2 separate regions of the Homo sapiens genome follow, and region 2 is linked to region 1. A link means that fine-mapping ties the variant in region 1 to the expression of a gene that starts in the linked region. Tissue or cell type: whole blood. Region 1 holds a variant in brackets; the other region holds the start of a gene. All regions are shown on one strand. Distances are between the middles of the regions.

Region 1 (8,101 bases):
TCACAGCTTCGAAAACAAAGCAGTTATTTTAATTAAAGGCGTAGAAGCACTTGTAAGGTTCAGATAGTATGGCTCGGTTTACGGTGACAACAAATCTCTTTCCTGCCCGTCCCTTTCTGTCCCCTTCAGTCACACTGCCCCGGGGCAAATAGCTTCTGATGTTTGTTTTTAATTCTCTCTACATCTTTAAGTAATGTGCTTATAACTTACAACATTTTTTGATTTATGTTGACAACGCAGTGGGCTCCATGCCATCTCTCCAGAAGGCTCCCCCCTTCCTGACTTCACCTGGAGTGTTTTCTTCTGCCGCAGGTTCAAGAGCCATATTCGAATACTCTCTGCCTTGGAATAGTGATTCTCACACTGGAGCTGGCATCAGAATCACCTGGGGGGCTTGCTGAAGCACAGGCCCGGCCCGGCACTTTCTCATACAGTGCGTCTGGAGGGAGGCCTGAGCATAAGCGTTTTTGTTTTGTTTTGAGATGGAGTCTTGCTCTGTCGCCCAGGCTGGAATGCAGTGGTGTGATCTCAGCTCACTGCAACCTCTGCCTCCCGGGTTCAAGTCATTCTCCTGCCTCAGCCTTCCAAGTAGCTGGGACTACAGGCATGCGCCACCACGCCCGGCTAATTTTTGTGTTTTTAGTAGAGATGGGGTTTTGCCATGTTGGCCAGGATAGTCTTGAACTCCTGACCTCAAGTGATCTGCCCACCTCGGCCTCCTAAAGTGCTGGGATTACAGGCGTGAGCCACCGCTCCGGGCAGTGCATAAATGTTTTTAATATGTTCTCTGTGGCGCCGATGCTACTGGTCGCAGGATCCCACTTTGTGGAGCACTCCCTTAGCGTGTAGGGTGTGCTGCCTGTGGGTGGGGGATTTAGCGGTGGGCGGCCGCAGTTAGTGGTAGATGGCTGTTTCTTGGACCCAGTCTACTAATGCGCTTCTGGGCATTGCCACTTTGTAGTCGTGTAGCTGTGGGCTGTGACTCGACTCCCTAGTGCCTCAGTTTCTCCCTTGTAAAGGCTCAGTTTTGTGCTCCCAGCTTATGAGGACCTGACGCTGAAGTGTGTAGCGCAGGGGGGCGTCATGGCCCTTCCTTGCGTGTTTGCCAGCGTGGCATCTGGGAGGGTGTTTGGGCTCTGTGTGCTGGGCACCACCGTGCCAGGTGTTGGGATAGAGACTTAGGAGCTTACAGTCTAGTAAGGTCAGGAGTGAGAACGTTGTAATTGTGATTCATGGCTTTGAAAAAACCCTGTGGGGTGCACCTGGGGTGTCCACGGGGGTCAGAGATGCACTTGCTGAGGCCCTCCCACCTGATTCTGTTGCTCTGGACCAGGCCCCAAGGGAGAGCAAATGTAGAAGCTGCACACGGACCCTTCTCAGGAGTGAATGAGCTGGGGAGGAGGCAAGCCCATCCCTCCCGGGAGAGCCCCCAGGGGCAGGCCTGGTGCAGAAGTGTGAAAGGCCTCGTTGACTGCTGGAAGGGCGTCCTCAGTGTAAAGATGTGCAGGCAAAGCCCTGTGTGCCCGAATTGTCCTCACTGAGCAGACAGGAGCCCCCACACCAGGGGCTGACCATAGCCTCTGTAATGGAGGTGGCGTTGAGCCAGGTTTTACTCCCAGGTTCGGAGGTGGGGCTTTCATGCTCATCTCCAATCCCATTACCTGTCTGCAGCCAGGATTGTCTTCCTGGAGCCCGAATGTGACACCATCGCTCCCTGGCGGGCACGTCTTCAGGGTGCCAAACCCACTCCCTGGCTCAGGACCAGGTGTCCAGGGCTGCATTCAAGCCCTGCGGCCCCTCTGCCTAGTGGAACCTTTGCCCGTGAGCCTTCCTCATCCTCTGCCCCCGGCGTCCAGGCTGGTGTTTTGGGTTTCGGGGTCCTTTTCTGGGAGCCTTCCGTGGATCCCGCCCCTCGCCCATGCCTCTTATGTTGCCTGGTTGTTTACAGACCAGGCCTTCTGTGTCTGGGGCATTGTTCTAGAGGTTGGGGGTAAACTGAGGGTCTTAACTCACACAGAGCTGAGGTCTTAGCTGGGGAGAGGGGTAATAAATACTTAGTAAAATGCAGGGAGTGATGCACACTCTGAGGACACCAGGGCAGGTCCTGCGCCAGGGGGAGCGAGGCACCCGAGGCCAGCGTAGCAGCCAAGGCAGGCGTGGAGCCCTTGCCTCTCTTGACTCACCTCCCCCTACCCTCTTGCTTTCCAGTGGACATCCTCATCATGGATGATGACGACGTCCCCAGCTGGCCTCCCACCAAGCTGTCCCCGCCCCAGTCTGCGCCCCCAGCCGGCCCGCCTCCCCGGCCGCGGCCGCCCGCCCCCTACATCTGCAACGAGTGTGGCAAGAGCTTTAGCCACTGGTCCAAGCTGACGCGGCACCAGCGCACGCACACCGGCGAGCGGCCCAACGCCTGCGCCGACTGCGGCAAGACCTTCTCGCAGAGCTCGCACCTGGTGCAGCACCGGCGCATCCACACGGGCGAGAAGCCCTACGCCTGCTTGGAGTGCGGCAAGCGCTTCAGCTGGAGCTCCAACCTCATGCAGCACCAGCGCATCCACACGGGCGAGAAGCCCTACACCTGCCCCGACTGCGGCCGCAGCTTCACTCAGAGCAAGAGCCTGGCCAAGCACCGGCGCTCGCACAGCGGCCTCAAGCCCTTCGTGTGCCCGCGCTGCGGCCGCGGCTTCAGCCAGCCCAAGAGCCTCGCGCGTCACCTGCGGCTGCACCCGGAGCTGTCGGGGCCTGGCGTGGCGGCCAAGGTGCTGGCGGCTAGCGTCCGGCGGGCCAAGGGGCCCGAAGAGGCGGTGGCGGCGGACGGCGAGATCGCCATCCCCGTGGGCGATGGCGAGGGCATCATCGTGGTGGGCGCGCCGGGCGAGGGGGCCGCGGCCGCGGCAGCCATGGCGGGCGCGGGGGCAAAGGCCGCGGGGCCCCGGTCGCGGCGCGCCCCGGCCCCCAAGCCGTACGTGTGTCTGGAGTGCGGGAAGGGCTTCGGGCACGGGGCCGGGCTCCTGGCGCACCAGCGGGCCCAGCACGGGGACGGGCTCGGGGCGGCGGGGGGCGAGGAGCCGGCCCACATCTGCGTGGAGTGCGGGGAGGGCTTCGTGCAGGGCGCCGCGCTCCGGAGACACAAGAAGATCCACGCGGTGGGCGCGCCCTCGGTCTGCAGCAGCTGCGGACAGAGCTACTACCGCGCGGGCGGGGAGGAGGAGGACGACGACGACGAGGCCGCGGGCGGGCGGTGCCCCGAGTGCCGCGGTGGGGAGGGCCGGTAGGGGAGGGGCCCGGGGGGGGGGGCGGGCAGGGCCCCTCGGGCTTGGCGGGAGCGACGACGTGCAAGACCAAGAGACCCAGGGAGAAGCGGACGGGGTGCGATGGACCCCGCGGCATCCCCGGCTCCCCGCCCTCCTCTGTCCCTGCGCCGTCCGTGGGGGGGCACTGGGGCGTATTAGGGCCCGTTCACTTCTCCGCCTCGAGACTCTGCCCCCTCAGCCTGGCCCGCCCTTCCTAAGTTATCGGCCTGCGAGCCGGAGAGACAATGGAGAGAACTGCAGAGGCCGAGTGGCGACCAGGCCCCAAGCGGAAGGCCATTTTCCCTGC[T/C]CTTCCTCAGTTGTCCGGGGCGGGGGTGGGGGGTGCTGCGAGGAATGGAGAAACCAGGCCCTTTAGAGGATCCCAGAGAGGGAAGAGAACCAGGGGCCCTTTTCTCTTTTAGAATTTTCTTTTAATCAGCCCACCTTTTGACTCCCCGCCCGCCCCAATCCATTATTTTTTTCTGCCTTCCGGGTCCCATCCTTAGAGCTCGAGTCGTTCCTTCCCCTCCTGGATTCCGGGTAGCAGAGGCAGCGCCGCAGGAGGCGGGTGCCCGTTTGTCCCAGGCCTGGGCGTGGTGGAGGAAGGGGTGCTGGAACAATAAACGGCACTATCCAAATGTCCCCCTCTGCGTGGTTCTTGAGTCCGGGAGGGAGAAGGGCAAGAGGGGTAAACGGAGGCTCTCGCCGGGGCATCAGCAGAGCGTCAGCCGCGCCCCGGGAGTGGCCCGTTGGGTCGCCCGCGGAGGGCTCTAGGCAGGGGGGCCTGTCCGCGGATATCCTCACTATGGTGCGGGCACTCACAGGGCCTGGGAGCTGCTTGTAGATGGGGCAGGGCGGACTGGTCAGGGCCAGGCCTGCCCGCTGCAGGGGAAGGAGCCCCCACGGCTTCTACCACCCTCTCACAGGGGCGGCTGGCTTCCTCCACTCCTATCGTGTGGCCCCCGCCCCTAACCCCAAAAGCACCCTCCTCCTGCCTCCAGCTTCTGGGGGAGACTCTGACTGCAAAGGGCGCACGTCCCCCTACCTGGGTCGTTCACGGGGCTGGTCCCGTGGTTGCGGCTCCCTGCGAAGGAGGCTGGGAGATGAGGTCCCGGCGGCTGCCGCTCCGGGGACAGGACCCCCCGCCCCCTACGGGAGGAGGATGGTGCGCTCAGCTGTCTCTGCTGCAGGGGCCAGGCAGACGAGCCAGCCAGGGGCTGGGGGAGAGGGCGGGTATGCCACAGTCCAGCCGAGCGCTTAGGGCATTTCAGGCAGTGCGCGTGCCCGAGGGGCTTGGTCCGGTAGAGCCGCTGCAGCCGCCCTGCCAGGTGAGCGCTGTTGTTCATGATCAGAAGGGGGCTCGACCATGGCGACTGGTTTCCTGGACCCACAGCCCAGGTCCTGAGGACCCATGTTCCTGGGGCCTTGGGAGGCCGCAGTGAGGGTCCCAAAGGGGTATTTTCAACCTGGCTGAAGGCTGCGATTACTCAGGAGCGATTGGAGGCGGCAAGCTGCAGGCGTCTTTGACTTGGGGGTTTCATAGTAGAGGGGGACTTGAAGGAGAAATTCGGATTTCCAGTTAGAGCCCTTAATCTGCCCTTTCACACCCTGATGTGCTTGAGGAGGGTCCTGGGGCCTCATCTGGAGGCAGGGGGTTTAGAAACCAGGGCCACTGATGGTCTACAGATCCTGGAGGATTTGTTAGAGGACTAGGGAGTGATTGTGGATCAAAAAAGCGTGTTCTCAAGTGGCCAGAGCCTTGCTTAGATAATTGGTATTGCATGTCAGTTTTTGAAATTTCAGGTCACTCGAAAGGAGGGGGTGAACCTTGGCAGTTCAGAGTGGGCTGGGTTAGCAAAGACTGAGGAAGCATTGCTCACTTCTCCTAGGGTCCTTCTGTGGAGCTCTGGCCTTGGGCACTTCTGGAGGCCTGGGAGGATGGGAGGTGCCCTGTCTGGTAGAATTGGCAGCTCGGTGCCCCATAAGTCGGGCACACTGAGTCTCGGGTCAGCCTCTTCTACCTGCTCCAGTATATGGTGGCAGGAGCTGACACCTATAGCAAGAAAGATTCAGGGCAAGTTTCCACCCTGCCCCTTAAGGCTGTGTGACCCTGGGCAAGTGGACTAACCTCTCTGACCCTTGGCTTCCTGCCCTGTGGAAAGGAGAGCTTGCCTGCCTGCCTTGTATGACTGTGTGTGGAGGGGGGAATCCCCAAGCCATGTGTTAACTCACTGGAGCTGCCCTCCCAGGCATGAGCAAAGATGCAGGGGCGAGGAGCCAGGCTCAAATCCCAGCTCTGCACTACTCATCCCACTTTGTAATACAGAACTGAGCGAGCTCACATGACCACCTTGACATCAGCCTGCACCGGACCCAACACCTGACCTGTGCTTTGGTGTCACACGCTGTCCGTTACTGATTCATGCACTCAGGTAGTCATTGCCCACCCCTCACTCACTCATTCTACAAATGTGTTTTGGGCAGCAGCTCCGTGCCCAGTAGGCACGGCGTGGGTCCCAGGTAAAGAAAGGAACATGGGTTCTTGTGGCACTTGCCGTCGGCCCTGTAGTTCACCTGCATTGGAGCTGCTCACCCACGGCAAGGTGAGGCTAGGCGGCCGCTCCATGCTCACAAACCCACCCTGGCAGTGACCGCAGAAGTTCCTTCGGCCCCCATTCCTCTCATGCTCACTTTGGTGGAGGGCACGCCCAGACTCGTTCACGCCCCTTACGGAGTCCAGTCCTCACAAAGGCCCTGTGTGGTTGCCATCATTCCTCGGCTGCTGCTGCTGAAGCTGGTACGAGGAGAGGAAGCAGCCTGCCCAGGCTACTGGTTTGTAAAGTGGTAGAACCTTAATCTGGATCTAAAGTCCTGACACCCATGCCCCCCACCCCCGGCCCCCTGCTGAGTTGATAATCCACTTAATCTTAGGTGTTTATCGGGCACTTCTTTCCTGTGAGGGACTCTGCTAAGCATGGGGGCACAGCAGTGACCTCAACAGGCACAAATCTCTGCTGTCATGGGGGCTGGGAGGGGATACACACAGCTAAGGGCTGAAGGGACAAAAAGAGGCTCTCAGGAGGCAGGAGGTGGAGGAGTCCTGGGCAGGGGGCAGGTGTGACAGGCAATCCCAGGGGGAGTGAGGGCCAGACAGGTGAGTGGAAAGGGACCCTCCACCCAGCTTACTCCCCAGCCTGAAGGCAGTGTTGATCTGGAAATGATTTTATTCCATACAGCCCCGTTTCCCTAAGGGTAGCCTGGAGAGTGTAGGTTCCAGGGAATATTGTTAAGATGTTTGGAGAAAACAGGATCTTGTATTCAAATAACCTGGGAAAATGCTGGATTCAAGTTTTCTTTTTTTTTTTTTTTGAGACGGAGTTTCGCTGTGTCACCCAGGCTGGAGTGCAGTGGTGCAATCTGGACTCACTGCAACCTCTGCCTCCTGGGTTCAAGCAATTCTGTCTCAGCCTCCCAAGTAGCTGGGAATACAGGCACCCAGCACCACACCCGGCTCACTTTTGTATTTTTAGTAGAGATGGGGTTTCACCATATTGGTCAGGCTCATCTTGAACTCCTGACCTCAAGTAGTCCACCCACCTTGGCCTCCCAAAGTGCAGGGATTACAGGTGTGAGCCACTGCACCCTGCCGGATTGAAATTTTCTCATACACAGAACAGTACTTGGCAGGTGGAAGGTGCTGAGCCAAGATTTAGTCGACTGGATGAATTATAAAACTAGCCCCCCACACCCACCCGGCTCAGAACTTTCCACTATGATTCTGTATACCCGGGTGGGGCTGGGGGCCAGGGCAGGGGTAGGTGAAAACATGCAGCATTTTCTGAACTTGTTCTGTCAGAAAACCTTCCATTTATAGAGCATCTTGGGCTGGTGTACTCCAGGCCATCCTTAGAGAAGTGCATGCATGTGAATTGTGTGTGTCTCTGCATGTATGAATGCATGTCTGTGTGGATGGTGCATCTGTATCTTTGTGCATATGTATGTCTGTGCGCATGTGGGTATGTGTGTGTCTGTGGTATACATCCACCCTCCTTCCCCTCATATCTACCACTCAAAGAGGCTGTGGGTGGGGACGGAGTTGCCTCTGGCACCATTGATTTTGCCTCCTCTCCTGCCTTGATGGACAAGTCTATCCAGAAATTCCCTATTTTCTGGCGCCGGTCTTTCAGCACCATGGACAGAGATTCCCCCCCCCCCCCCACCCCACCCCCCACCCCCACCCCCACAGCTGAGTCTGGGATGATGGAGCTCAGTTTAATCCATACGCGTTCCCTTTTAACGCCTCCCGATCAGTTCGAAGAGGGTATTGTTCCTATTTTACAGATAAGGGAACAGAGGCTTTGGGGAGGTTAAATAGTCCTCCAGGCTCTCACAGCTGATAAGTAGCAGAGCTTAATAGTCAGAATCTAATGCCAACACTTAGATCAGTCTATCTGTACCTTATGGGATGCTTGTGAAGTGGGGTGGCCACTAGCCATGACAGCAAGTAGACTGTGGACGGACAGCCTCATTCAGGCTGGTGGGGACTCTGGCAGGGGGATTTGGATCAGCAATTGATGTTTGGTCACAAATAAGATTTTTTTAAAAAAAGTAATGGATACTTTGAGGAAGAGATTACTTACCAAATCTCAACTCCCAAATTCCTCATTCTTCTTCCTGCATTATCCCTTGAAATACTCAGTGAATCTACAAGTGGGTTTAAAACGTAAATTTATCAGGCTGGGTGCGGTGGCTCATGCCTGTAATCCCAGCACTTTGGGAGGCCGAGGCAGGCAGATCCCTAAGGTTGG
Region 2 (8,101 bases), 33 kb before region 1:
CAATAAACACTAACACCCCATTCCCCTCCCCCCAGCCCCTGGCACCCCCCATTCTACTTCCTGTCTCTATGAATTTGACTTCTCTAGGTCCCTCATATAAGTGGAATCATAAAGTATGTGTTCTTGTGTGACTGGCTTGCTTCTCTTAGCATAATGTCCTCAAGGTTCATCCATGTTGTAGCCTGTGTCAGAATTTTCTCTCTTTTTAAGGCTAAAAAATATTCCATTGTATTTATTTATTTATTTTTATTTTTTGAGACGGAGTCTGGCTCTGTTTACCAGGCTGCAGTGCAGTGGCATGATCTTGGCTCAATGCAGCCTGCGCCTCTGGGTTCAAGTGATTCTCCTGCCTCAGCCTCCCAAGTAGCTGGGACTACAGGCGCCCGCCACCACGCCTGGCTAATTTTTTGTATTTTTAGTAGAGACAGGGTTTCACTATGTTGGCCAGGCTGGTTTCAAACTCTTGACCTCAGGTGATTCGCCCGCCTTGGCCTCCCAAAGTGCTGGGATTACAGATGTGAGCCACCGCGTCTGGTCTATTCCATTGCATTTATGTGCCACATTTTGTTTATTCGCTCATCTGTCAATGGACACTGGGTTGCTTCCACCTCTTGGCTATTGTGAATAATGCTGCTATGAGCATTGGGTGTACAAGTTAGATGTGTATTTCTTGATCATGTAGCAATCTAGGATAGATGTTAGGTGACAGGATGTATTTCCACAAGGTGGTCATTCAGGGACCCAGGTTTCTTGGGGCTCCCCTCTTTCTTTAGGGCCTTGAAAGAGCAGGAAGCAGGCAGATGTTTCTTTTTTTTTTTTGAGATGGAGTCTCACTCTTTTGCCCATACTGAAGTGCAGTGGTGGGATCTCGGCTCACTGCAACCTTTGCCTCCTAGGTTCAAGCAATTCTCCTGCCTCAGCCTCCGGAGTAGCTGGGATTATAAGCGCCCACCACGCCTGGCTAATTTTTGTACTTTTAGTAGAGATGGAGTTTCGCCATGTTGGCCAGGCTGGTCTCGAACTCCTGGACTCAGCTGATCCTCCCGTCTCGGCCTCCCAAAGTGCTGTGATTATAGGCGTGAGCCACCGTGCCTGGCCAACATACATGTTTCTTAAGAGCATTGGCTCGGAAGAGGCCTGTATCGCTTCCATCCCATCCCATTGGTGAGAACCAATCACAAGGCCACACTTAGATGCCAAGAGGAGTGGAAAACAGAATCCATCGATGGGAAGCAGCATCCCAAGAGTGATTTTGTACTGCGGAAGGGAAGAACAGATGTTAATTGTCAATTAAGCCATGTCGGCTGCAACCCATCCCATGTTTGGGAAACATCCTGGTATTGGTTGGGTTGCCTTAAGGGAGAGACTCAGAATTACCAATGGTTTCAGTGAGTTAGAAAGTGATTTCTCTCACATAAAATCTCAGCTGGCACGGAGCCTCTTTCACGAAGCCATCCAGTGTCTAGCTGGCTCCCTGTGTCTTGTTTCTCCTCCATCCTCAGTGTTGGCTTCCATCTGGTGTGCCAATGAGCTGTTCTCGATCTTGCCGTTGTCAATTTGACCAGCGAAGAAGGGGAATGGGCTGGAGAGGGAGGAGGCTGTCCCTCCCAACAACCAGGTCACTGCAGGACACCCACTGAATGATCTGATTCAGAGGAGCACAAGCACATGACTTTTCTTATAAACAGGTTTCCTCGTGTAGAGTTTGTACCCTAATAATTTGTTTCTATTGCTGTTATGATAGCACTTCACTCTCTTTTTTTTTTTTTTTTTTTTGAGACGGAGTCCCATTCCATCGCCCAGGCAAGAGTGCAGTGGTGCGATCTCAGCTCACTGCAACCTCTGCCTCCCAGGTTCAAGCCATTCTCCTGCCTCAGCCTCCCGAGTAGCTGGGATTACAGGTGTCCGCCACCACGCCCAGCTAATTTTTGTATTTTTAATAGATATGGGGTTTCACTATGTTGGCCAGGGTAGTCTCGAATTCCTGACCTCCTGACGTCTGCCTCTGCCTCCCAAAGTGTTGAGATTTACAGGTGTCAGCCACTGCACCCGGCCACACTTCCTTCTGTTCTAAGATATATTTAAAAATTTACCTTTGTGATATTTCTGAAGGAGGGACACAGATATCCTCCTATTGACACACACAGTTAACACAGCACTGTTCACCCCACCCCATGGAAAGATGTTATTAAATCAATAATATACATCTTATGATTGATGCTCACTGAGCTTTGAGGGTATACAGTGGCCACAACAATAGACTTATATGTAACACTGCTAATAGGTAATAATAACCACCATCATTTTTGTGAACTTACTATGGGCCAGGTATTGAACTAAGCAGCTCTTACACATATTACCTTGCAGGTTATCTTATTTTTTCCCATTCCACAGATGAGAAATTGAGGCTGAGAAAGGTGTTATTCCACCAGTGAATTATAGCTTCTTATCTTTTCTGACTACCAGTGAGGATGATAACAATTATAAGCGATAAGTCATCTGCCACTTAGGTGAGAGTCAGCCAAGTACAGAACAGAGGAAGGACCAGAAGGACCAGCCTACAAGGACACTATGGTTTGGACAATTATTTTAAAATATGTGTTTTTTGCAAGAATACCAACAGTAACAGCTAACACCCAGTGCGTCCTTACTAGGTGCCTACCTAACGCGGGGGAAGTAGTGGATTCTCAGGGCTATGACACGAGGCAGTGTGTACAGTCAAGGGTTAAATACACGAATTTAGAGCCAAACTCCATGGGTTCGGGCCGAGGCTCTGGCATTCCGGGTGTGTGACTTTTGGTAGGTGATTTGACTCCTCACCTGCAACATAGGGATAGGACCTACCATGAGGCCCTAGTTAGGACTAGGACCTAGTGCGTGTGAAGCACTTGGAGGCGCACAATGTATTTTCATCACTTCAGAAAGGAGGAAACTGAGGCCATGGCACCTGAAGCGCAGCACTCTCTGTCCAGTAACTAAGGAACCCGGGGTCTCTGTCCAGTAACTAAGGCACCTGGACTCGGGCCACTGGGAGGTGCAGCGGCAGAGAAGGGGTTACCATGATAGAGACGGTAGGAGGACCCGGGGTGGCACGAGCGTCCCTCTCCACCACTTCACTCTCCTCACGGCGGGCCCGGGGACCCGGCCGCGCAGGCGCGAGGAGCCCGGGTTGTCGGGGGGGCACCGCCCTAGACACCCGGAAGTCTCCGCCTAACGGGCCCAGCCCGCACCTCCTGTCCGGGAAGGGGGCGGGGCCGAAGCCCCTCGGCGCGGGGCGCCATAGAGCATGGACGGAGGACCTGCGTCCTAGACACTTCCGGAAGTGGCTCCCTCAGGCGCCCGCCGGGCACCACAGAGCTGGGGGCGGTGGCCGGGATAGCGGGCTCGCCTTCCTAGAGCGGCGAGGACAGGGTGGCGGCCCGGGGGGCAGGGAGTAGGGAGAAGGGGGGGAGCGGCGCGGGCGGAAGCGGCCGGGAAGGTCACTTCCGGCCTGGGCGCCCGTCCCCCTGACCCCAGGGTCTGAGTCGCCGCTGCCGCCGCTGCCACCATCCGCGAGGCAGGAGAGAGGAGGAGGAGTGCGGCGCGGCGGCCCCGGGACCAAGGAGGTGAGGGGTGGGGGCGGGGGCCGTGCGCTGGGGGCCAGGTGGGCGCGCGCTTCGGGAAGCTGGGCTTGGGCTGGGGGTGGGTGGGGAGACTGGAGGGCGAGCGCGACTGGGCGGCGGGCGCGCGTGCGCGCTGCTGGGGGGGCGTGAGTGGGCGCGCGGCCGGGGTGACGCGGGCGGGGGGAGTGCGCGTGCGCGCCGAAGAGCTGTGGGAGGGGACGCGCGCCCGGGCGGCCCGCGGGCGGCGAGCGGGGCTGGAGGGGGGGTGCGCGTGCGCGGGTCCGGGTCCAGGGCGCGCGCGTGCGCGTGGCGGGGGCAGGAGCGGGGGCCTCGGTGGGGGTCCCTCTGCTGCGGGCCGTCGGGGGTGGGGCCGCTGTCCGTCCCCCCGAAGTTCCAACTCCGCCGGTCGTGGCCGGAAGTGGTGGCGACTTCGGGGGGAAGTTGAGGCCCAGGTGGGGGAAGGGGCCGCGCGGTTGGGCTGGCCTGGCCGGATACCGCGGCCCCGAGGGCACGGTCTCAGCCCTCGGCCCCCCCAGCCCTTCCTTCCCCTTTTCGAGTCAGCCCGGGTCCCGTTGCTGCCCCGGGCGGGCTGCGCGTGGCCTTTGATCAGGCGGGTAATTACGGGGATTCTGGCCGGCAGGAGGCCCATTCATTCGTCCTTGCTCGGCAGGCGGGGAGGAAGCGCGTCCCCAGCGGGGGAAGTGACTGGGCCAAGGTCAGCCACCGCGTGGCCCACGGGGCAGGGCGAAGGCGGGGACTGGATCGGGTGGCGACTCCTGAGGCCTCCCTCCCCTGTGCCGAGTGGATCAGAGTGGAGCCCCGCCCTCCTGACACCCCACCCCGACCCCCAGTCCAGGGAGCTGACCCCAATTCATGTGGATGAGTGCTCTGGGACCTGCAGAGTCGCACAGAAAAGTGACCCACAGACACAGAAGGCAGGAGTGAGTGGAGGCAGAAGTTTTTCCAGTGCCAGGCCCTGTGCCGGGCACTAGAGACAGGGAGCAGGGAGATGAACAAGGGCTTGGAGTCTGGGTGGAAGGCAGAGACTGAGACCCGGGCGACAGAGTCGCCATCCAAGGTGACCAGACCCCTGATGGAGAGGTCTGGGGGCTGTGGGAGCCAGGGAAGGCATTTTGACCCAGCCCAGTCCGGGGGATGGTCAGGGCTTTAGGGAAGGAATGGCTTGGTCTGCTCTTTGCGGTGTCCTGCTCCCAGGTCCCATGTTGCGCAGTGCTTAGAACCCATCTGGGGATCCGATTGACCCCAGCGCCGGGAAGCACAGTTGCGTTGATCCTGGCTTAGCTCCTCTGAAGACCGTAAGCCTCTTTGGCTAAACGCTGCTGACATTCACCTGCCTGCCTCTGCGCAGTCCCTGTGGTCCTCCGGCCACGCACGGCCTCAGAGAACATCCAGATCAGATTCCTGCTTGCTTATCTCATGTCTTATCCATCCATCCGGGCACCCGGCCTGGCCCCTCCCTGGTGCACTGCCAGAGTGTGTGCAGGCACTGGGTTGTATTCCCCAAGAGCTCTGGGACTGGGCAGGCCTGGGTTCAAGTCCCAGCCCCACCACTCACCTTCGTGGCCTTAGACGAGTAACTTCAGTGCCTTACTTTCCACCAGGACAGAGTGGGAGTGGTAATAATAGTATTGACCTCAGCGGGAAGGCTCTTAATGCTTTCATTTTAGAGCCAGAGCAGACCTCAACAGATGGGTGTAAAGTAAATGGAAAGGGCTCTGGAGCCAGGCCCTTTCCTGGGCCTTGGCCTTGGCACTGTCTCTTCCACTTCTGTGACCTTGGACATGTCACTTCCCTTTTCCCAGGTTCAATTTCCCTTCAGTTGTCTAAAAACGAGAGCAAGTTCACAATTCCCTGAGTAAATGTAATCCATCCAGGCGGCTGCACAGGCCAGGCCCTGTGCTGGGCATGAGGTCACACATGGTCTTGGCACAGCACTGTCCTGTGAGGGCCCAGATGAGGTGCCTGGCCCAGCCTGGGTGAAGAGAGGGATCTCAAGGCCCTTCTGTGCAAGCACAAGGTAGAGTGGTGCTCCGTGCTGGGCAGCCTGGCAGGAATCATACAGTCCCTGTCCCAGAGCAGCTGAGACCCATTCACACTGGGCAGAGGGGTGGGGAGATTTGCCAGAGTGCTCCCGGGAGCTCTGACCTTGAGGGAGGGGTGTGTGGTGCAGGGGAGGTATTGTGTCTTGAAAGATAGAGAGGAAGGATTGGCTACCAGGAACCTGGTACTTAAGGGAGGATGACAGTGGGCTCTGGGCAGGGAATGGCAGGGGTCACAGCTCAAGGCCACCAGCAACTGCCTGGCTGCCCTGGGAGGTCTTTTGTTACTAGGCATACACAGCTCTCAGGACACCCATCCTCAGACATGTTTCACAGGCCTTTCCAAACCTCGTTCGTGTGTCCTCTGGTGCATCCTGAGGCCTCCAGCCTAGTGAGGACTGTGCCAGGTGCTGGGGCCTCTGTGGTGTGAGAAACTGCAGATTCGACAACACTTGCTGGTGCACACTTTGCAGGAACCTGGCCCAGTGCCTGGTCCTCACTGTCCTAAATTCTCAAGGCTCTGGGATGGAGGTGGTCACCTCCATTTTAGGGGTATGGGATGGAGGCTCTGGATGGCACTTGTTAGCCCAAGGCCCCCAGCAGCTTCAGAACCTGTGTCTACTGCGATTCCAGAGCCCAGACCCTTGACCATCACAACCGCCCCCTTCCGCCCCCAGGTTGGGGTCTAGGGGGACAAAGGCTGTTCCGAAGTCCTCTAGGTGTTAGTCATTGGCTTGGAGACGCTGGACTCCCTGCCTAGTGGGGTGTACTGTCCACGAGGACTCCTACACGCAGGGCTGCTGGCTGGTTCAGGGGAACCCCAGCATAGTGGGAGAAGCACAAGTGGCTCGGAAGTTGAGTGCTGAGATCCATGCAACCCCCAAGGAGGCCTCACTCACCCAGCATCAGGGAGAGCAAGGCAGGTGTGGAGTTCGAGCAGTCACACCTCCAGTGTCAGTGGCCCTGTCCCAGGAGCCCAGAGCTGTCACCTTACAGCTGCAGAGAAACCAGCCCAAGCTCTGAGCCCAGGTGGGGCGGCCCCAGGCCTGTCTGTTCCTGCAAGGGACCTGGCAACTTGAGGCTGTTTTTCGTGACGTTTTCCTGGTTCCGTCTCTGCCGTGGCCTGAGCCTTCTCCCTTTGGGCTCACAGAGTGTGGACGTCTCTCTTGTGCTAAATGGGGGTCCCATCTGGCCCCCCTGTTTCGAGGCCTTGCAGTGGATAGTGTTGGGACCCAGAGATGCATCAGAAGTGGTCCTTGCCTCAGCCCAGGGTCCAGCCAGTCAGAGCCATGGATTCCTGAGGCTGCTGTGTGCAGGGTCTTTGCTGGAAATAGCCCCGCCCTCAAGTGCACAGTCTGCTGGATGCACTGTGGGACTGATGGGGACCTATAGTAGGTGTCGCAGAGGTGAATAAGACACGGAGTAAGACACAGATCCCCCTGCGGGACACAGGACCATCCTCAATGGTGGACGTTAAAGGGGACAAATGCCGTTGTCCAAGAGTTAGAAGGAAGCAAGCTGTCTTTGGCAGCTGGCCGACTCAGGTGTGGCTCCAGCCTCCTACGTTGTGGCTCTGTGACATTGCTCCAGCCACTCCGCTAGTGGAAGCCTCGCTGTGGCTGTGTGAGATTGTACTAGCCACTCCGCTTGTGGAAGCCTCGCTGTGGCTGTGTGAGATTGTACTAGCCACTCCGCTTGTGGAAGCCTCGCTGTGGCTCTGTGAGGTTGTACTAGCCACTCCGCTTGTGGAAGCCTCGCTGTGGCTCTGTGAGGTTGTACTAGCCACTCTGCTTGTGGAAGCCTCGCTGTGGCTCTGTGAGATTGTACTAGCCACTCCGCTTTTGAAAGCCTCGCTGTGGCTCTGTGATACTGTACTAGCCACTCTGCTTGTGGAAGCCTCAGTTTCCTTGTCTATACAACAAGGACCACAGTGATAGGCTGTGTTTACTGGGCATCTCCACGGCTTTTGGGTGAGCACTTGACACACATCTCATTTAATCAGGAGGGACGGGTAGCCCAAGCACCTTGCCCAGGTCATGTGGCTGGTTCCTGGGGGGCCAGATCCCACCCTGCCCTGCCCAGAACGGCTGTCCTCTTGTCCCTGTGCTGGCCTCATGGCCTCGCACTGTCTCCCACTGATTGTGGGGCCCAGGATCAGAGCTTATGTGCTTAGGGCACCCTGCACCCAGGACCTGGGATTTAATCCGTGCTTGATGAGTGTGATCTTTTGTCGCTGGATAAGAGAGGATAGAGCTGAGGGAAGGGAGCAGTCTGGGAAAGCTTCCTGGGGGAGGTGCTGTTGATGCTGAGCCGTGGCAGATGGGCTAAGCAGATGTATACTGAGAGGGCAGGTGAGGTGGGAGGAAGGGACTGTGCAAAGGCCCCGGGGGAGAATCCACACCATCTGGAAAATGGCCAGCCTGCCCTGTTGGCCCAGCA

Evidence for each region. PIP is the estimated chance that this variant, and not a neighbour inherited with it, causes the effect.
Region 2: it holds the start of ZNF787, and the variant in region 1 is fine-mapped to the expression of ZNF787 in whole blood (INTERVAL, PIP above 0.99).

What each region holds. Positions count from the first base shown.
Region 1 is chr19:56,083,200-56,091,300 of GRCh38, reverse strand. ZNF787 (zinc finger protein 787) reads left to right here. Exons shown (of 3, transcript NM_001002836.4): 3 at 2,209-3,935. The coding sequence ends at 3,278. Among named protein-coding and RNA genes, the nearest start is that of LINC01864, 21 kb to the right of the region's middle. RefSeq lists enhancers at 1-82, 212-381, 4,354-4,953, 5,289-5,788, 5,789-6,290. The variant T/C (reference allele first, on the strand shown) is at 3,604.
Region 2 is chr19:56,116,676-56,124,776 of GRCh38, reverse strand. It overlaps ZNF787 (zinc finger protein 787), which reads left to right and starts at 3,482. Exons shown (of 3, transcript NM_001002836.4): 1 at 3,482-3,605. It overlaps LOC124904772 (a long non-coding RNA gene), which reads right to left and starts at 3,167. Exons shown (of 2, transcript XR_007067348.1): 1 at 2,845-3,167; 2 at 232-1,257. RefSeq lists silencers at 2,986-3,355, 3,446-3,565, 3,576-3,655, 3,946-4,265, 4,346-4,395 and enhancers at 3,000-3,715, 4,143-4,437, 6,673-6,842, 6,582-7,297.